Homo sapiens: one gene and its partners. The protein of the gene in region 1 interacts with the protein of each later gene in a biochemical or structural test. Each region holds a gene or a part of one and is shown on either strand. Other genes may lie near its edges.

What was found. Proteins that work in one complex are often made in the same cells at the same time.
Region 2: the proteins of UTP4 (region 1) and UTP15 form a complex in vitro, tested with the Homo sapiens proteins (one study listed by IntAct).
Region 3: the proteins of UTP4 (region 1) and WDR43 form a complex in vitro, tested with the Homo sapiens proteins (one study listed by IntAct).

The regions. Positions count from the first base shown.
Region 1 is NC_000016.10:69,128,270-69,135,649, reverse strand, and holds the start of UTP4 (U3 small nucleolar RNA-associated protein 4 homolog), read right to left. Parts: upstream 3,002-7,380; 5' UTR 2,961-3,001; intron 2,193-2,960; 5' UTR 2,191-2,192; coding exon 2,032-2,190; intron 1-2,031. UniProt on the Homo sapiens protein: Ribosome biogenesis factor. Involved in nucleolar processing of pre-18S ribosomal RNA. Part of the small subunit (SSU) processome, first precursor of the small eukaryotic ribosomal subunit.
Region 2 is NC_000005.10:73,561,328-73,568,764, forward strand, and holds the start of UTP15 (U3 small nucleolar RNA-associated protein 15 homolog), read left to right. Parts: upstream 1-4,415; 5' UTR 4,416-4,585; exon of another isoform or gene 4,586-4,859; intron 4,860-5,934; 5' UTR 5,935-6,017; coding exon 6,018-6,107; intron 6,108-6,907; coding exon 6,908-7,000; intron 7,001-7,092; coding exon 7,093-7,277; intron 7,278-7,437. Other genes in the region: ANKRA2 (ankyrin repeat family A protein 2), read right to left, coding at 1,266-1,554. UniProt on the Homo sapiens protein: Ribosome biogenesis factor. Involved in nucleolar processing of pre-18S ribosomal RNA. Required for optimal pre-ribosomal RNA transcription by RNA polymerase I.
Region 3 is NC_000002.12:28,939,667-28,946,688, reverse strand, and holds part of WDR43 (WD repeat-containing protein 43), read right to left. Parts: intron 5,229-7,022; coding exon 5,115-5,228; intron 4,378-5,114; coding exon 4,308-4,377; intron 240-4,307; coding exon 190-239; intron 90-189; coding exon 1-89. UniProt on the Homo sapiens protein: Ribosome biogenesis factor that coordinates hyperactive transcription and ribogenesis. Part of the small subunit (SSU) processome, first precursor of the small eukaryotic ribosomal subunit.

The DNA of each region.
Region 1 (7,380 bases):
CAACCTCCTGAGCTCAAGCGATCCTTCCGCCTCAACCCTCCAAGTAGCTGGAACTATGGGCATACAACACCACACCTATCTAATTTATTTATTTATTTTTTTAGGGATGGGGTCTCACTATGTTGCCCAGGGTGGTCTTACACTCCTGGGCTCAAGTGATCCACCTGCCCTGGCTTCCCAAAGCGCTGGGTTTACAGGTGTGAGCCACTCTGCCCTGCCTCTTTTCACTTTAACGTACTAATTTTTTCTTGCTCTGAGAGTCACTGACAGAGCTAAGCAATCGTATCTAGTAGGAAAGGGAATATAGGGAAAGCAGGAAACCAGCCTGAGTTAATTAATTGTTGAAGAATAAAGAAAACAGATGAAGGAGAAAAGAAAATAAGGAACACTAGGTAAGGAATGGTTGACTTATCCATTCAAGAAACATTAAGCAGTGGCTTTGTAGGAGGCGCTTGATAAATGGTGGGAATGCAGATGTGAGTATCACTGACATGGTTCCTATCCTCATAAAATTGGAAGTTCAGCATGGAAGAAAGACATTAAACAAACACACAAATTATATAGTTATAACTGTTACAAATGACAAACAGAAAAATCATAATATGGCCATGACTGTTAAAAAAAAAAAAAAAGAAGAAGAACAAGACCAAGAAAAAGATAATCAGTCTGGTATGAGGGCTCACACCTGTAATCCCAGCACTTTGGGAGGCTGAGGTGGGCAGATCACTTGAGGTCAGGAGTTCGAGACCAGGCTGGCCAACATGGTGAAACCTCGTCTCTATGAAAATAAAAAAATTAGCGAGGCATGGTGGCACACCTGTAATCCCAGCGACTTGGAAGGCTGAGGCAGGAGAGGGAGGCAGAGGTTGCAGTGAGCCAAGATCACGCCACTGCACTCCAGCCTGGGTGACAGAGCAAGACTCCGTCTCCAAAAAAAAAAAAAAAAAGAAAAAGAAAAAAAAAGAAAATCACAGGATGCAATAAGCACACGCCAGCGCATGTTCTTCATACCACAGAATGTAACCCATTTGTGGTGGTCCTGTAGTTTTTACCTTTTGATTAGTTCTTCAGGGGTGAGCTCAGTAAATCATCCCTTTCCACATTTCCTAAACCCACCTCTCAGGGAAGGCAATTCTCTGAATTGCCTTCCCTGAAGGCAATTCAATGAAGGTTCTATGCCTGTGTTTCGGTTTATCATATTTATTTTACAGGTTGGAAACTGTACACTTATCTTTCTCCCACTGGTCTTTGAGCTCCGTAAAGTTAGGGCCTCTGACATTTGTCTTAGTGCCCAGTATTTGCCACTCATTCACCGAGAAACATTTACAGAATGCCTAAATTCCAGGTACCAGGCTGCTGGGCACTGAATTCACTCATTTGCCCATCTACTCATTTATATCACAGCACCCAGTACATAACAGTCATTCAACATGAACTAAGATGTTGCACCCGAAGAAAATCACTAGTCAGTGCCCTTGGAGGGGAGAAGAAAAAGGACTAATAGACCTCTGCATACACCCAAAGGACATTTTACCTAATTTTAAATCTCCTTTACTCCCAAATGTAGACATGTAGGTCTACATTCTCTCAGACAGATGAACTTTGGAATCCATCTTCCCACATCACCAAAAAGTTTCTGATATTAAAACGTGTTATCATTTTTTCTGAATTGACAATGAAACAGTACTGATACTCCCTGCAGGAAATTTTGCTTACCAAAGCTGCAATGGTGTTGAGACTGATATACCAACAATTTCCCTTCCTGTGTCCAAAAGATCCAGCAAACCTCAGTTTCCAATGACAGGCAGTGAGATGTCACATTTCTAGGTAGGACCCTTCTAATCAACATTACACAGATTGAAACTGAGCTTCTCTTATCAGTTAGGAGATCTCAGAAGTTTGGTAGTTCTAAGCAACTTCAGAGGGGCTAGGAAGTCACTCAATCAGTTTGATTATAAAAGACATACAAGCTTCTTGAACTTCAGAAGAAATTAACATCAAAACACCATATCAGACTCCCAAATGACTTACTTTCTCCTGAAAGTAGTTTGCTGACAAGTTATAAATTTCCACAGTGCCATCTGTTCGTGAAACAGCCAATCTGTTTGACTGGTTATTGTAAGCCACACAGCGGATTCCTGATGGAACATAATTAAAGAAACGTACTCGATGGACCTTAAATTCACCCATTCCTAGGGGGCGAAAAGAGAGTCATTATTGCTATATGTTAACTGCAGTATGTCACATATAGTATTCAGTTCCTTAATATCACTGTTCTGGCTGGAAGGCTCCAACAACATCTCCCTGAAGTTCATTTCCAAATGGCTGCTAACAATGCCCCCCACAAGAATTACTCAATCTTCAAAAGCTCAGAATGGCTTGAATAATAAGGAGGCTTCAGCAAAAAATCAAAAAGGGTCCTACTCCATAGCTCCAGAGTTCCTATCTCGGGGCGCCTAGGAATCCGCATTTTAGCAAGCATCTCTCCTCAACTCTATTGCTAAGTTTGCAAACAACAGACCTAAACTGAGGTAGTGACAGTGAGGCTGATGGGGCAGGCAGAACCGAGCTCCTCTTGAGGAAGAAACGACAGGGTTTGACTTAATCTGGCTGCCTGGTCTGACGTCTGTCACTTACCCTACCCCGTCCCCCCGACGCCCGCCAACATATATACTGGCCGAGAGTAGAGACCAGGTCTTGTTCGCCCCTCACTGGCCTAGCTTCAAGGTTAGGAACCCGCAGACAGAGCAAGCGCGTTCGGTCGGGCCGGGGCGTCTGAGGCGCGCGCGGTCTTCGCCTCCCCTTCCCTCTCCCCGAGTCTACAGAGTAGCCCCCACCCCGCCTCGGGACAAGGAGACCCTCGGGACAAGGAGCTCAGCCGGACGCCGACCCTGGGCCGGCCACCTTGTAAGACCCCCCCAGCTCTCGCAGCCGCTTCCCACGCCCCTTCCCCAACTCACCAGCGGCCCCACGCTCCCCTTCCCGGTGCTCGCCTCTCTCCGCCCCGGCCCCACGTGCGCGCGCGCTCTCAGGCTCTGCCCCGGAAGTGCTCCTGGCGCATAGTCGGAAGTGCGCAGGCAGTGCTCGCGGCGGCGGCGACGGCGGCGGGAGGTTCGGTTGTCGCCCGTTGGCCGCGCGGCGCCGCGCTCGGCGGCCGCCATTGCAGGTCAGGCCGCGGGCGGGGGGCACGGGAGGCTGCGGGGAGCGAGGGCCGAGCCGGGATTGGGGGCGAGGGCGCGAGGGAGCGGGAAGCTAGGGAGCCGGGGCCGGGCGGGGCGCGCGGCTCGGAGAGAAGAATGGCGAGCCGAGGGGCGGGGAGCGCGGGCGGGGGAGGGGTGGCCGGGAAGGGGGAGGGCGGCGGGAGGGCGGCGCGGAGGTGGGGGCAAGCCCGGAGGGGCCTCCGGGGTGGGAGGGCCAGGAGTGTGGGGGAAGGGAGCGGTGTGGAGACGGAAGGCGGAGGGAAGGAAGGGAGCGAGCGGGGCGGAGCGGGAGAAGGGCGGAAAGGGTGGCCGAGCGCGGGCGGAGGACGGAGAAGGGGGCGGCGAGGGCCGGAATCTCGAGGTACGTGCGGGAAGGGGCTCTTCCCGGGGTTGGGAGGGAGCCCAGCCCGCTATGCTTGCGGGAGCGGAGTAGAACTGGAACCTAGGAAGTAGCGGGAAGAGCAGAAAGGGGAGTTCGGGGTGGGGGTTAGGACCGTGAGGTTTTGTTCCAGGTAACATTTGTAATCGTGGAGGGGGGAGGCTTCTGGGAGAGGTAATTGGAAGGGTGGTTGGAGAGTCATTCCAGGTTCTTTTGTGGGAGGGAAGCCGAGAGACGAGTGGGGTGGGGTCCTGGAGGAGTGGAGTACTTGAGAACCGGGAACAATTTGGAGAACGAGGGTGGTAGAGAAAGGACGTTTAAAGAGTAATCTTTGGGAAGAGGGTGAACGGTTTGGAAGACCACTCCAGTGGGTGGTGTGGAGGAAGGCGGTTTAAAGAATAGTTTCCCTGGGAGGCAGGAAAAGGGGTTAAAACAGCTTGTAATTTGGAGGGGGGTGGAGAAGAGGGGGGAAGCGGATTGAGAAGTCCCAGAAAGTGGGTGGGACTAGAAATAGGAAGTGTTTGTAGCTCTAGCAGAAAGGGTGGGAGGGGGCCGAGAGGGAGTGGGTGGAGAAGATGGGGGTGGGTGGGAGGAAGAGCACAGAGGGAGACTCTACGCCGGGCTAGAAAGGAAAGGGTTTGGGGGAGTACAGGGGGCCGTACCATTAAGAGGAGGACAGGCTAAGATGGGGCTGCAGAGTAGCAGAAGATGGAGAAAACTGCAGTAACTCAGATCGACTGAAGCCATCTTTTCCACCCATTGCTACAAATACCAGTAATTGATTCCCTCCAACGTGGGAATCCTAAAATGTGATGGGAAGTATCACGTGTATGCATAGCATCCACACACGTTTTTGAACACACTTCACTAATGTAAAGTTTGGAAGCATTCAATTCCACCAACCCTCCATAAGCCCCTTTTTGGAGGGGAGCAAGATTCTCATTTGGAAACAGGATTTTAGACTTAGTAACATAAGCCTTTCAAGAGACAAGATCCCCTTCAAAAGTATAGACCTGTCCCCTTCAGTTACAAAACCACGATAACACTACAAATAAAAATAATCTGTATTCGGTTGTATGTAAAACGTTCTGAGTTGTTCACTTGGTAGAAAGGCACATAGAGACATAGTCATCATATTTAGAGAAATTACCTTCCAGAACTTAATCCCTGAAGCAGTTTGGTGAACCACAACTGCCATGTTTGAATTCTACTGTTATGAAAACTTGATTTTATTCTGATGACCTGCTGCTTTCGTAGAATGCTTTAGTCCGTTATAAACATTAATATGCTAACACAGTGTAGTATTAAGACATTCTATTTGATGAATACTAAGAAAATGCCACCTTTCTCTGGGAAATCGATAGCTTGACCCTGAAGGCTTACCATGTGTCAGACAATGTGCTAAAAGCTTTACATTCATTACTCGTTCTTGCAACAGCCTTTCAAAATAGGTGTTTATGCCCAGTGTATTGTTAGGAAAACACGTGAGGTTAAACTACCCACTGTCACATATGGGATAGGTGGCAAAATCACAGAATCCAGGTCTGTATGACAAGTGAGTGCTTCACTATATTCGTAAACAAAGTATCCACCCTGGGATCAAAAAACAAAAGCTCAATAAATGCCAACTGTTGGCCTAGCAAAAAATAGAAAATTGTGAATATTTACACTCTGAAATAATTGATTTCACCCCAGTTTAGAAAAGAATGTTTAAGGGTTGAGAATTTAAAGGCTTGGTTTCCTGTTTGAAAAAAAAACAAAATTTCTAAAACGTTGTTTAGCTTTATTAAAATTTAGTTATTTGTATTGAGGTTAAACCGTTGAGTCAAAGCCTCTTTTTTGCTATAAGCCATATGTTCGGTTTAATTGGATACATATCACACTTTCTTCTGCCACATTTTATTTTGAAGGATTATGAGGATCATTGCTCAGGCTGTTCTGTTCTCTGTAAGACAGTAATCTTTTAACAATTTAATATTTAACAATTCAGAGACCAGAGGGTAAGAATTAAATTCTGTGGAAGATTAAAATGAATACTTGACAAAGAATGTCCTCTATTCTCTTGACTTTCACATTCAGGAGCAGAGGGTAAAGCTTTGCGTCCTAGAGGTGGCATTGAGTAGATTTTTCTAAAAGTTTCAAAAACTGAAACATCTCAATTGGGTATGATAAAAAGCAAGCTGCTTCTTTGTTTTTAGCTGCCTACCCCACAGATATAATACTTTGGTGGCAAGTTACAAGGTCTTTCCATAGGTTACTTTGCCATTTTGTAAGAGATGCTGTGAGAACGAGGCTAATATTTGTAAAGCAAGGGAAGTTATCATACAGAGGTGCTTTACAGGAGGGGGCTGTGTGAGGAGAACTGCAAGAGGGGCCAGATTGTGGAGGGGTTAGGGTTCATATCCCAGCTCTCCACTTAAGTAGCTGTGTGACCAGTTAACATTTAGCTCCTCTAAGCCTGTTTCCTCATTTGTGAAATGGGAGTGAGAAGACCTTGCTAAAAGCATAGGGTGTCAGGGTGAAATAAGAGGATACAGATAAGTGAACGAGGCTAGCTTGTGAGAAATGAAGCCTTTTGTATTATAAAAATAATGTTCTGCCTGGACTTTACTTTTCTTCCTTTTTTTTTTTTTTTTTTTTTGTGACGGAGTCTCGCTCTGTTGCCTAGGCTGGAGTGCAGTGGCGTGATGTCGGCTCACTGCAACCTCTGCCTCCTGGGTTCACGCCATTCTCCTGCCTCAGCCTCCTGAGTAGCTAGGACTACAGGCACCTGCCACCACGCCCGGCTAATTTTTTGTATTTTTACTGGAGAGGGGGTTTCACTGTGTTATCCAGGATGATCTCGATCTCCTGACCTCGTGATCTGCCCGCCTCGGCCTCCCAAAGTGCTGGGATTACAGGTGTGAGCCACCGCACCCGGCCTCTGCCTGGGCTTTTCTTAAGAAATCATGGTGGTGCTTTGATTTGCCAGTTTTTTTTTTGTTTTGTTTCAGTTTGTCTGTTTTTTGAGATGGAATCTTGCTCTGTCACCCAGGCTAGAGTGCAGTGGCACAGTCTCGGCTCACTGTAACTACCGCCTCCCAGGATCAAGCGATTTTCCTGCCTCAGCCTCCTGAGTAGCTGGGATTACAGGTGAGCGCCACCATGCCTGGCTAATTTTTGTATTTTTCGTAGAAACTGGGTTTCACCATGTTGGTCAAGCTGATTTCGAACTCATGACTTCATGATCTACCCGCCTTGGGCTCCCAAAGTGCTGGGATTATAGACGTGAGCCACCGTGCCTGGCGGGTTTTTTATAATAATAGTTACTAATTTCAAAAGAGAGAGAGAAGCCAAATGCTGGTTAAATAAGGTATATTCTAGAGTGGTCTGATTACAGCCAAAGCTTTTTAGTTTTGGGTAGGGTTCCCATTGTGGGTCAGGATTGATTCTTTGAATGCTGGTGCCTTTTTGAGGGGAAAAAAGTTTCCTTTACTGAGATAAAGTCGTTTGACTAACTTAGGAATACAGAATTTATGTATTGTTTAGTTCATTTAGCTGCGTGAAGGCCCATAAAGATCAAGTAGAAAACTTTTTTCCCTCCTCATGAGATTGGGGACAGGATACATAATTTATTGCAGGGAAAGGTTTGGTTTTCTTTATACCTTCTTATCTTTCCAAGGCTACACATGAGTTGTGGCCTGTGAGTCTGATACCACACTGTAATATAATGAATTTAAATCTTTTTGAAAAGCTACATCACAGAAGTCTCTCCCTGGCTCTGCAGTTAACCTTGTCAACCTAGAATTATTGTTCCTAACG
Region 2 (7,437 bases), on another chromosome or scaffold:
AGTAAGAGTTCTATGTCAATGTCTACATTTGAAAAGAAATACATGAGGTGTAATAGCTTCAATTAAACTATTTATCAAGTGATACTAAATTGTTTTTATCATTAAAGTCCATACTTCCTTGTTTGCATAATGGTTAGTCAAAAAAAAAAAAAGTCTAGGCTGGGCATGGTGCTCACGCCTGTAACCCCAGCACTTTGGGAGGCCAAGGCAGGTGGATCACCTGAGGTCAGGAGTTCAAGACCAGCCTGGCCAACATGGTGAAACCCCATCTCTACTAAAAATACAAAAAATTAGCCGGGCTTGGTGGCAAACGCCTGTAATCCCAGCTACTCGGGAGGCTGAGGCAGGAGAATTGCTTGAACCCAGAAGGCGGAGGTTGCAGTGAGCCAAGATCTCGCCACTGCACTCCAGCCTGGGTGACAGAGAGAGGCTCTGGCTCAAAGAAAAAAAAAAGTCTACATAACCATAGTGAAAGTTCTGGAAGAAAATATATTAATCTTGGGTGATGTTATCCTAAGAGAATAGTTTTATTATTCAGGGTATCATTATAAAAGCAAATCTAGAGCATGATGACAGACTTCACTGCATTAAAGCACAGAAAGTAAATGCATATTAAATATTCATAGAACAGGAATATTCAGGAATGGATATTACGCTAATTCATCTCTAAAAGGAACATGATTTTTTTTCTTATGATTTTATTTTTTGAGACAGAGTCTCACTCTGTCACCCAGGCTGGAGTACAGTGGCACAGTCTTAGCTCACTGCAACCACAGCCTCTGTGGTTCAAGCAATTCTTGTACCTCAGCCTCCCAAGTAGCTGGGATTACAGGTGGACGCCACCATACCCGGCTAATTTTTGTATTTTTAGTAGAGACGAGGTCTCATCATGTTGGCCAGGCTGGTCTTGAACTCCTGACCTCAAGTGATCTGTCCACCTCGGCCTCCCAAAGTGCTGGGATTACAGGCATGAGCCACTGTGCCTGGCCCTATGATTTTAAAAGGAATAATAGGGAACTTCATTAGGGAATTTGTAAACAAATATTAAACAAGAAGTTTTTAAAAAAATCAACATGTACTTCCTTTAAATTAGATATTATATAATCTGAAATTATTTTAATTTTGGTTTCTATGAGATTCCAGAAAATCATATTAAAAAATGACTTCTAAACTGTCTTCCCAAACTCAAAATCTCATGATTGGGAAAATAACCCAAATATACAAAAACAAAAACAAATGCAGATATTTATACCATAACTTTCAACCTTTAAATAGGACAGATGCCACCTCCAGGTCAGAGTTAACCTGATCTTGAATATTTTTACTATCTTCTTCATTTAAGGACTTCACAAATCGAGAACACACATTCATATCAAATCGGTTAGGCAATATGAATTTCATTCCCATGGCAACACCCTGAGCTGACCCTTCTTCTGAATTTGGGTCCAGTGGATGTTCTATTTTAATGTCTGGCATGCCAGTTAGGCTATAAGTGCTGGGACACTCTTCCACGATAAGCTGGGCTCCAATATCCAGATTTGTTGATGTATCCATGATTTCAACTGTAGTTTCAATAACTAAAACATTTCTTCATGATTTCCTCTTGGTTTTGTAAGAGCAGTATCCAGTGTGTTCTTGGAATCTGGATATTTAAAAATCTGAAAGAAAAAATTAGAAAATTAAAAGTATTCTATCAGCTTAGGTAAAAACACACAAAATAATCATTTTCAATCAAGTATTGTAACAATGCTCTTGAAAGCACCTACACATAATAGAAAGAATATAATGTTCAGAGGTAGAGAAACCTGGGTATGAATCCAAACTTTGCCATTAATTAGCTGTGTGACCTGTAGAAGTTACTCAATCCCTCTGAGCTTCCGTGTCATTTATAAAATAGGGATATCACCATTAACCTTATAGGGTTCTGGTAAAGACCAAATGAAATACTGTACAGTGATATTCTCACCTCCATCATTAAATTCCAATACATTTTAGTTACTGTTTCTCCCATTTCCTATATCTGAATATCACCAAATGGATAAAAGATCAGGCTAACAATGAAAATAAACTTTAATCTCTTACCTAAGGTTAGTTCTTTAATATGCTATGTTTATATAGGTGGCCCTTAGTTTGAATTTAAGAAATGATAATTCATGTTGTATCCAAGTTTATTGGCATTGTCATCTATAACACCTGTGATTCCTAGACCATGAAAGGCTTTACAAAGCTTTGGTTTTGATGAACTGAAGGTACATTTATGAATTTTTGTTCCGATTAAGCATTAGCAACTTAATGTAGGTTTTCATGAAAAATAAAGTAGGTAGATTATGGATTGGCTTTCCAAGATGTATAGTTGTCTTAGATACATTATCATTTGGGACAGAAAGGAAATTAATAACATCCAGTTAATTTTTTCATGTTAGGGTTAATTGCCTCTTAGGAATTTTGAGAGGGTGCAGGGTGTTTCAAAATTGGAATTGGAATTAAAAGAAAAATGCATTAGGATCGCAGTGGAGCAAGGGTCGCGAAACCATACATTTACAGATAACCACCTTCTACAATTTTAAAAACATTTTCAAAGATTAGTCTTTATAACAATCCTTTGAGTAGGCAGGTCAGGTAATCATATGTCCACCTAGGAGGGGTAAAAAAGGAAGCTCATGAATTATGAGGGCTTACTCAGCTCTTCTGACTCCATCACTCTGACCATTAAAATGAGGCAGCCCTAAACAAAGCCAAAATCTCCACGAGAGAGTTGAATAAATAACACATAGTATAGTAAGGAAAAAAAAAAAAAGCAGGAAGTAAGAAGGTTAATACATTTGGGCAAAAAGAAGGAAACCAGAAAAGAAAATTAGTTCAGTGATTCAAAGGGAGATGGATGTGCAATGCATTAGTCCATGCGTCTTAAAAGGGACTGGACAATGTGAACTGTGTTTCCTGAGGGAAGAACCATCTCCCCCTTTCTCCTATCCAGCGGTTGGCTAAGTGCAACTCCCCTAAGCTCTCTGAGCACCCTGCATGTATCTGTATTTTAGCATTCACCATCCTTTTGACAATTTCCATTTAAATAACAGCTAAATTGAAAACTCCCCTAGGATGGGGACCACTCTTACTAATTTTTGCACACAGAACAGTACTTGGTCCTACCAGGTGCTCCATAAATGTTTTCTGATCTTAACTTTAACAATTTTTTCCATATTCTTTTCTATTTCTAACATTTGCTGATTAGACCTGGCTTTCCACTCCCAACATCGCTACTAACTAGCTGGCCACTCCTGGACAAATAAATAATACAAGTTTTCTGAAATTCATCTATTATAAAAAGGTGTTGAAATAGGCCTTTCTAATATTCTTTCCAGCTCTAAACAGCTTCCATGTTACAAATCAGGGTTTATAGATGGAATTACAGGTCTTCGAGAGGAGAATAGCAAATGTGCTTAGGCGAAGGGGGTGGGTGGAAAATGAACGCTTATCTTGGCACAGCAGTTTAACGAGAGGAGAAGCAAAGTTGATTGGTAGGCCAAAATTTTGAAGAACAGGAGAGGGAGGCGGGGGTGAGGGGAGTGGGGTAACAGGACTTAGAAGAGGTGGTGGTGAGAAAAAGGGGGTAAGGCAATCGATAGCTAGGTTCACCTCGATCTGTCAGAGCCCAGGGATGAAGGGATAGAGAGTCTACGGAGATAAAGTGGGCAGCTATGCTAGTTCCTGTGGATGCTAATAACAGGAGCCCCTCGTTTCTTCCTGATCCTGGAATTATTCTACAAGGAGAGGAAGGTGCTATGAAAATAAATGATGCCTCACAGGCGACAGGTGTCCCAGCGTCCCGAGACAGGAGCCCGCTGTCTCCCGCTGGAGGGGAGACTCTTGCAGGAAAGAAAGTCCGTTCTGTCGCCACCGGCCAGCTGTGCCCGAAAAGTCCCAGGAAGAAACTCTCGCTCATCCGCGGCGAGCGGATCCCGGGCACAGGGGCTGGAGGCCGACCCGGTGAGAGTGCAAGGTCTCGCGACCACCGACGACAGCAGACAGCGAGTCGGGCCTTCCCATCTGAGGCCAGCTTCAGTACAGGCCTCCAAGCCCGGGCTTGTTTTGGCCGCGACGTCACTTCCGATTTCTTCTTTCGCCTTCTGGCTAAAAAACGTTCCGCAGCAATGCAGCTGAAACTTTCGGGTTTTCTTTTTTTTGTCCCTCTCTCCTTTTTTTTAATATTTTTGTTTTTGCCGCCTTTACGCTCCGAGGCCCATCCTGCCGGAGTACTACACAGACAGGGTCATTTCAGTTGACGGTTCTGGGTCACCAGAGCAGAGGAAGCCCCAATTTCGCCCTCCGGTCACACCTCCTACTCCAGATCGCCCCGCCCACCTGACCCGCCTCTGCGCCGCCGGGCTGCGTGAGTCTCATGAGCGTGCTCTGGTACGTCATCTTCGCGCGACGTTCGGTTCGCTGTGTGTGTCGCCGGCTCCTTGAGGGTCCATGTGATTTTTACGCCAGTGCTGCTGAACTGTGCAGGGTAGGGAGCTGGCACAGTCCGATTAATTGTCCTTGGGTCGAGGTGTCTCGTCGGACCCTTTGGGGCTCAGTGGAGGTAGGTGAAGGCGGCTCCCATTGAGGGAAGCCCACACTCACACCCGGCCTTCCTGTGTTAATCTGGCATGCTCTTCTGGGGCTTCCCAGGCTATATAGGAGAGTGGCCAAATTCTTTAACCGGCTCAAGTTCCCCTCAATTAAGCTTCGACCTAGGTTCTTCTCTGCGATTACACCCTTTCCTGTCCACCGTTGTTAGTTCCCGGAGTAATCAGCAACTCTCCAAGGCAATGGACACATTTCCATCTTTGCCTTTGCTTACGAGGCTCCCTCAGGTGAAGTGAACCTAATGGAGTTTTAAAATATTTGGGAGATAAAATCAGCAGATCTTGTTAACTATTTGGATGTTAGGAGTGAGGAAGAAAAGGACACGTCAAGGCTGAGTCTAGGTTAATATCTGGTGCCAGTCACCAGCCAAAATGGAGTATATTGGAGTAAGCAAAGGCACAGACCATGTCTTTATTTCATTCACCATTATAGCCCCAGTGCCTAGAGCAGTGTCCTGCACATTGGTAGGTACTTTAATGAACAGAAGAGTGTTCCCAAAGACCAGTGAAATACAATCATTGGTCATTGTATTTCATTAAAGCACCTTTTAAATATATGTTACACCTATTTATCGTGGTGTTACTAATGTAAAGTTTTCAGGCTTTTTGGAATAGATGATGAGCAGCACCTCTGGAATCATTTACCTGATAACATTGAATCTCTTTTGCAATTGAGTCGTTCTGGAAAAATGTTTTGGCTTGATTGCATGTTATTTAAAAGTTTTATCCTATTCTGCCACTTTAGTGTTGAATTTAATTTCAGGACTGCTTTATTACAGTTTTCTTTCCTACTGTTTAAACCTTTTAAAGTAAATTTAATTTTAAGCTTCTACATTAGAATATTAGCTTTGTGTTTCTTACTTCTTGGCATTTTTAGGCTTTCAGGAAATCAAATCCGTAACTATAATTGTTATAGATTAAATGTCATCTTAAACTTGGTTTCAGGAAACTTGTATTTGCAGTTTCACCTTAATATTTCCTGTTGCCAAAAAATGGACACTCAAAGCCAGCATGATCCTTTTTGGTTTGGCTACTGTAAGGCTGTGCTAGATTTATTCCTAAGTGTTGTAAAATGGTTGGCTAGGTGTGAGAACCTTTGTGTACAGCTGAATAGATGGTGCGATATGATAGCCTTCACTTTAATTATTCCTGCTTCCTATAGATTGCCTTTTCTGGGTTAGAATTAAATGGCTTATTGGTCTCTAATCTATATACTTCCACACAGACTTTTTAAAGAAAGCAGAGTGAAAATCAACTATGTGTACAAGCTTATAATATGTATATAAAATATTTTATTTTTCAGAATTAAGGCAGAGTCACTGTAATTATTTCTAATACCAATTCCAAAATAGTGACTCTTGGACAATAGTGCAATTATATGGAATTATGGCTGGTTATAAGCCTGTAGCTATTCAGACATATCCTATACTTGGTGAAAAAATCACCCAAGATACACTGTACTGGAACAACTATAAGGTGAGTGTGGGACGTAATGAGGGAGAAGGGATTTGTGTTTATGCCAATTTCTCTAGCATATGTTATACTCTGGATGCTCTAACAGAGAATTATTAACTGAAAACCATCTATCAGCAGCTTATAGTTTGGGCAGATAATTTGATATCTATTTTTTCTTGGAATTTTATGTAAAAGTCCATACTGCTTAATCAGATTAACCATACAAATGCCTAGCACAGAACAGATGATCAATCAATGCCAAATGAATTAAATTTTAAAATTTGAATCTCATATGTGTAAAGATGTTTATTGAAGTATTGCTTGTAATAGTAGAAATCTTGAAAAACCCATGTCTATTAGTAGTGGACTGGTATAGTAAATTACAGTGTGCCCTTATAATGGATGGTAAGTCTATTGCTCCTATGAAAGCTAATATGTGTTACTAAGTGAAAAGAAGCAAGATGTGGAACAGCCTACATGGTATGATTATCTTTTTGTTATTTTAAAAGTACAAGTACGTGGTTATTGTATGCTGGTGTAGACATGATAACTTTTTTTTTCTGGTAGAAATCACAGTAAACTCAATAGCTGAAGAGACAGAGTGGGGTGTGGCTTTCTAACCATATGTTTATTTCAGTGGCAACAAGAATAGTCTGGGTGATGAGATATGTACCTTTTTTGCTTTCTTTGTAATTTTATGTTAAATACAACTTAAGAAATGTTACTAAGAACAAAGAGAAACGGTCTGTAAGAAATTATGTAATGCATAAATAGGTCTTACCAGTGGTAACTCTGTTAACACACTATTATTTTTTATTAAGACCCCTGTTCAGATTAAGGAATTTGGTGCAGTTTCAAAAGTAGACTTTTCTCCTCAGCCTCCATATAATTATGCTGTCACAGCTTCCTCAAGAGTAAGTATAATATTAAATTTCTTTATTTTTCTTTTGTATAGTTTACTACTGATCTTGAGCCATCTGGTGAAATACTGTTTTTCATCTTGTAGATTCACATTTATGGCCGATACTCCCAAGAACCTATAAAAACCTTTTCTCGATTTAAAGACACAGCATACTGTGCTACTTTTCGACAAGATGGTAGATTGCTTGTGGCTGGCAGTGAAGATGGTGGAGTTCAACTTTTTGATATAAGTGGGAGGGCTCCCCTCAGGCAGTTTGAAGGCCATACAAAGTAAGAGACAGTTGGTTTCTGTGTGTTCTGGTTTTATTTTGTTGTAAGCTCTTTTTTTCTCTGGACTTTGGTTAAAAAGATAGAGATCAGTTTTATGGAGATTATTTGCCTATAGGTACTATATTTCCTGATTGTTCTAAGAGTGCTTAACTTGGGTTCC
Region 3 (7,022 bases), on another chromosome or scaffold:
TCATCTTTTCCTTCGGCATCCTCATCTTCCTCTTCAACGTCCTCATCTTTTTCACTTTCACTCTCCTCCTCATCTTCATCCCAATTATCCTAGTCGAAATACCAACAAGGAAAGCATTCATGAAGGTCTCATTCTTACAGAGTATGAGGATATAAAGGCCGATGTATATACAGGGAACAAATCACTCACTTCAGAATCCTTATCTGCTATTTCATCATCAGACTCCTCTTCAGAAGACTCTGTAAGGGGAGAAAGAACCCAGCCTTAATTTTAGAACAAAACAGAGGGTACAGCCTGGAAATTAAGCAGAACCAGATTCCTGAATTTACTTTTAGAAATATTATTTATATTTAGCAATCATCCAACTAAGAAATAACATTATTTTATTATTTTTTTTTTTTGCAGGCTGGAGTGCAGTGGAGCAATCTTGGCTCACTGCAACCTCTGCCTCCCAGGTTCAAGCCTCAGGCTCCTGCCTCAGCCTCCTGAGTAGCCGCCACACCCAGCTAATTTTTGGTATAGACAGGGTTTCACCATGTTGCCCAGGCCGATCTCAAACTCCTGGACTCAAAGGATCCGCTCACGTCTGCCTCCCAAAGTGCTGGGATTATAGGCATGAGCCACCACACCTGGCTAATTTATTCTTACATGTATAAAAGTATATTCATTATATTATTCCTTCAAGATCTCACCGGTCCAAACCAACTAGCCAAACCCTTACAAAAATCTCATCTTTAAATACTAAGCCCTATCAGGGCCACCAAATAGCCCCAGTGGATGAGGAAAAATTCAACACAGAAAAGCTGGCTTATAAACGAAATGGAAGAATTAGCATTATTTAACCCATAAAGTACTAATAATGAAATATTAGCAACTGATATATTAGATGTATGATTGTTGGGGGAAAACATGCAAACGTTAAAACAAAAATTAACACAGCTAGATTATTTTCTAAGCACTAAGGAAGATATATCTCACAATGGAGAGGAAAAAACTGATAACAGGCACAATGTGGTTCTTAGTGTGCTGCAATATGAACGATCAGCATTGATGCAACCCTCCAAAAATAAAATCCAATCAAACCTTTAGGCCTCACATCCAGTTTAAAGGAACTGTAGCTTAGAGGAGCAAATTAAAAGAAACCAAAAGGAAGCAAATCCACAAACATAAGGTGGGGCATTCTGTGAAATACACTTCCCAGTCTCTTCACCAAGTCCATGTCATGAAAAAGGGAGTTCTTAAAGACTAAAAAGAGTCTTCAGAAACACAGTAGCCAGATTCAACCCCATGATGCAAAACTCGAGTCTAGTTTGGGAAAAACAGCTTTAAAGGATATTTTACGGATAACTGGAGAAAGATGAAGATAAACTGGGCATTGGATAAAACTAAGGAATTGATTTCATTAGGTGTGCTAATGTTATCCAATAATACAGAATGGGATTCCTATTTTTTTAAGATATTCTAACATTCTTCTTCTATCTACTTTTTCTTAAGAAAATAAATCATTATCTCCAGATGAAGTTCCCTTACATGCCCATCTCCCTAAGCCCATTCCCCAAAAGAAACCACTATTGTGAGCTTCTCATTCTCCAGTATGCTGTTATAACACATACATCATACTACCCATGAATTACACATGTACATATTCATGAAAGACATATGCAGCAGTTCCCCCAATATGTGTTCCTTTTCCCCAGTTTCAGTTTCCCCTGGCAACTGCAATCCAAAAATATTAAATGGAAAATGTACCAAATCCAGGATCCCTAAGTTTTAAATTGCGCCCTGTTATGTGCAGCGTGATGAAGTGCCGTGCTATCTGGCTCCGCCTGGCCGGAGAGGTAAATCATCCCTTTGTCCAGCTTCGCTGTCTACACTAGCCACCCGTTAGTCGTTTAGTAGCCACCTCAGTTATCAAATCGAATGTTGCAGTATCGCGGAGCTTATGTTCAAGCCACCCTTATTTTGCTTACTAATACAATTACACGATGCTACACAGAAGGTATCATTTTTTGACTTGGTTTTGTAATCAAACTTATGCGTGTTAACTCGATCTCAACTCCAGGCACTCTCACCAATGTAGTGTTATGCTAAAGGAATAAACCATTTTAAACATGCTCCCACTAATGAAGAATTATGTTGTTCACAAGTCTTTTTCTTAATTATAAAGGCTGCAATGAACATACTTATATAATCTCTACATATATGTTTTAAAGCTATGTTGTCAAGCCTTTTAGCCTTAAAATGCTTTCACATTCTTAAAAAACTGAGGTCTCCAAAAAGTTTTTGTTTATGTGGGAAAAGTCTATCTATATTTATCACATTCAAATTCAATTTTTAAATTTAAGAATATTTAATCTGTTTACAAATGCCCATCCATTACATGTTAACACAAATCAATTTAATGAAAAACAGTATTTCTGTGCTCTCTTCGGCAGCACATACACTAAAATTGAAAAATGGAATTTCCAAAACAACAACAAATTCTACTAAGTAGAATGGCACTATTAAAAACTTCTCATATCTGCTTCTCCACTCTATTTTTTGGATATGTTGTTTTATTTGAACTATATGAAGAAAATCTAGCCTCCCACAGATGACCGATTGAAAAGCGGAGGACATCATGAGCCGCTCAAAGAGTTCTGGGCATCCCCACAGGTCCTCTGTTCATACTTGGAGAAGTATTGGTCACTGGGATACACACAAGCACTTTGGGATCACTTTGGGACTGCACTTGATGAATGGAAGGATATGCAAATTGTCAACTTTGAGATTACAAAGTTGCTCTCTAAAAAGAATGCACATGTACTCCCACCACAGCATGAGCTCCCATTTCCCAAATCATGGCCAACACCTGACCATTTTCACTCTTTCAAATTTATCCATTTCTCACAATATGGAATGTGATGTGTGATGTGATAATGGTAAAATTTTTTGTTCCATATAAATTATCAGTGTTTCTAACAACTTACTGAGCAGGCTATCTTCTCCACAATGATACAATACACACCATCAATAAACACACCAAGAGTCCACAGAACTACGGGTTTTTCAGGGGTAGCTATTGCCAATCTATTGGTCTAGCTGTCTATTATTGCACATTAACTCTGTAACCCTACACTTCTATAATCAATTTGCTACTCAGGGTATTTGAGGATGATCTAAAATGTTCCCTTTTTGACATTTCCAGGTTTTGTTATCAAGATTATACTTGGCTCATAAAATGACTAAATTGCCAGTACATGACAAAAAGGACAGCCCAGTGTTGTGGGTCATGCTTCTATTCCCAGCACTTTGGGAAGCTGACGCGAGAAGACCGTTTTTGAGGCCACGGTGTACAAGATCAGCTTGGGCAACAAAGAGACCTCATCTCTACCTTTAAAAAAAGAAAATTGGCCAGGCATGGTGGCTCAACAGTCCCAGCTACTCTAGAGGCTGAAGCAGGATGATCGCTTGAGTGTAAGAGTTTGAGGCTGCAGTGAGCTATGATTGACCTCGAGCCACTGCACTCCAGCCTGAGCAACAGAGAGAGTCTGTGCAAAAAAGAAAAGAAAAGATTTGTTCTTTGAAGGCCTGATCAAATAACCTTCAAAATATCTGGGCATATCTTGTGAGAAGTTTTATAAAGTCAATTTTAGAGCTACTGGCTTTTTCAAACTTTTTATTTCTTTTAAAGTCAATTTTGGTCATTAATGTTTCCTTAAAAATTAACTATACCACCTAGACTTTTAAATGTATTTACACTAAGTTTGTTCATATAATGTTCTTCTATTTAAATATTTTCCATACCTGGCCAGGCATGGTGGCTCACACCTGTAATCCAAGCACATTGGGATCACTTGAGCCCAGGAGTTTGAGACCATCCTGGGCAACATAGTGAAACTCTGTCTTTACAAAAAAATACCAAAGTTGGCCGGGCATGGTGGTGCACGCCTGTAGTCCCAGCTACTCAGGAGGCTGAGACAGGAAGATTGCATTGAGCCCAGGAGGTTGAGGCTGCAGCAAGCTGTGATCACAGCACTGCACTACAACCTAGGCAACAGACTGAGACTGTCTTAAAAAAAAAAAAAAAGAAAAGAAAAAAAAAATCTTCCATAACTAATGCCCTTTTTTGTCACTGTATTATACTTGTGCCTTTTCTTTTCTTATCTGATGAATTACAGATTTTTGCCACGGACTTGCCTATTTTAATTAGAGAAGGCTTGCCAAAGGAAGATCTTATGTTGACGTTTTCAAAAAGATAACAGAACTCAGTCACTGAAAACTGAATGTTATAATTCTAGACTCCATCCCATTCCCCCAGTCTTTACCTTCTTCATACACCAACTTTGCCTTCTGTCCAGGGGAAGTTGCTCCCTTTGTCTTCTCTGATGCTGTTACCTGGAAGAAGATAAAGTACTGTTCTGAAGTAGAGTGTAAACATATCCCAAGTATCACGACCACCAGCATACCCAACCTTCCCCACTGCTTGCTGCTAACTCACCCTCCACCACCATAATGGAGGACCTTCATACAATACAGAGCAAAAAAGTCCTTCAAATACAAGAGGGAAAGAATTACTCTGTAAAGCTGAAAAACTCTGAGGTGATTAGAATATCTTTCTGTGCCAAAATTTTAACTGTATAAATATCCTATAACTTACTAACTGTATAACAACTGAAACACAATGGTGAGAAAAAGATTTGAGTAAAAGTTGAAACAGACACAACTAAACTTTCTTACTGTCAAACTGATAAGCTTTCCAAGTTAAAGACTAGATCCTGATTTACCAATTTCTTACTGAAACAGGGAGCTCTCAGCCAGGCGTGGTGGGTCACGCCTGTAATTCCAGCACTTTGGGAGGTCAAGGTGGTAGGATCCCTTGAGCCTAGGAGTTCAAAACCAGCCTAGGCAATGCCATCTCTACGAAAATTTAAAAATTAGCCAGGCATGGTGGTGCATCCGTGTAGTCCCAGCTACTTGGGAGGCACTTGAGCGAGGCTGCAGTGAGCTATGATCATGCTACCGCAGTGCAGCCTGAGCGACAGAGCAAGACCCTGTCTCAAAATGATCCTTATTCCTCTCTCCATTCCTACCATGTCCAAAAGTTTTAGCCCAGAACAATATGATTTACTCACTTGTGTAATTAGAAGAATAAGCTTTCCATGAAGGTGTGAAAGTTTCTGAAAAGTTTTGACTCTGCTTTCCATTAACTGGTAGAGTGTCCCCAGCTGGGGTACCAGGTCAGGCAACTAGAGAAAAAAATGATCATTTGGCACTATTAACGTATTAGAGATGACGAACACGCAAATCATGCTCAGCTATGCCTCAGTATTTAGCCACTGCACCACACACATCTGCTTACAAGTACTCCCAGTGGCAGTGGCTACCTGCAACATAGCCTAACAACATCACGAATTTTCACAGAAGACCCTCAATGTCCTAGGAGGAAAAAATAATAGGCTTATAAAAAAAATGATATAAGGGCAAGAGAGTGAAACTGCAAGGTGGCACTTTTCTGTATTGATCAAACTATTTCAGATAAGGCCAATATCCCATATAAAGTAGACAGGAAATTAAAAATGCCTCTACCACGTATCTCCAGGCTAAAGAGGCTTTCCTCTGAATCTTATCCTCTGATGCTAGCATATTATCTACCCTTACTGTAAGGCCCCAAAGAGGCAGAGAAGCCTTTTCCCAGCTCCCAGAGACCAGTAGAACAAAGTACAAAGTTGACCTTTTGCATTTTAAATATACTTCCTGTTAATGAGTCCTCTGAAACATATTTAAAAAATGAAAGTAGGACATTCTCTTTTTTGCTCCCATGTTGCTCTCATCAGAGTCTTTTGTATTGAGAATATAGCTGTTATATTTGGAACACAACACGACTGATAAAGGTCTGGCTCCTCCAGGTTCACTGAGGAATAAAACAATGGTAATTTGCCTTTCTCATAAAATCTTAAAGTCCCCTTGATCATTTTTAACAATATGAAAGGAAACCATGATGGCCATAATTTTTCTATCCTAGATCAACTATAAAAAGCAACTGGAAAAATTTAAATGCCTCTTTTTAAAGGAAGCCATTTGGAAGTCCAGAACAAGCCTCTTCCTGTCCCACTGCCTTCAAATACCTGCCTCTGGTTAATTTTCCTCCCATCTCTGGGCTCTAAGAACAACGCTGGCAGCTGGGCGCGGTGGCTCATGCCTGTAATCCCAGCACTTTGGGAGGCTGAGGCGGGCAGATCACCTGAGGTCAGGGGTTCAAGACCAGCCTGACCAACATGGAGAAACCCCATCTCTACTAAAAACACAAAAATTAGCCAGGCATGGTGGCATGTGCCTGTAATCCCAGCTACTCGGGAGGCTGAGGAAGGAGAATCATTTGAACTCATAAGGCGGAGGTTGCGGTGAGCCAAGATCGTGCCATTGCACTCCAGCCTAGGCAACAAGAGCAAAACTCCGTCTCAAGAAAAAAAAAAAGAAAAAGAACAACGCTGGCTTCCCCACCTCACCCCCTACCCCCGTGATATTCTGATATTCTTTTATCTGTCCCTGTAGCACTACAGAAAAACGGACTCCATTCTTTTTTTTTTTTTTTTTTGAGACGGAGTCTCGCTCTGTCGCCCAGGCTGGAGTGCAGTGCCATGAACTATGCTCACTGCAACCTCTGCCCCCCCGGGTTCACGCCATTCTCCTGCCTCCCTCAGCCTCCCGAGTAGCTGGGACTACAGGCACCTGCCATCACGCTCGGCTAATTTTTTGTATTTTTAGTAGAGACGGGGTTTCACCGTGTTAGAAAGGATGGTCTTGATCTCCTGAACTCATGATCCACCCGCCTCAGCCTCCCAAAGTGCAGGGATTACAGGTGTGAGCCACCGTGCCCAGACTCCACTCCTTACCTCTGATTAGCCTTTACCTGCACTCCTATTTCTAATACTTTAGTAAAAAAGTGTTTCATTCAAATGTTAACTTTAAACAGCAGACAGACACAAAAATTAGTAAAGCAAGGTTTAAGGTCATTGCATTCCAATTTATCACCTCCCTTT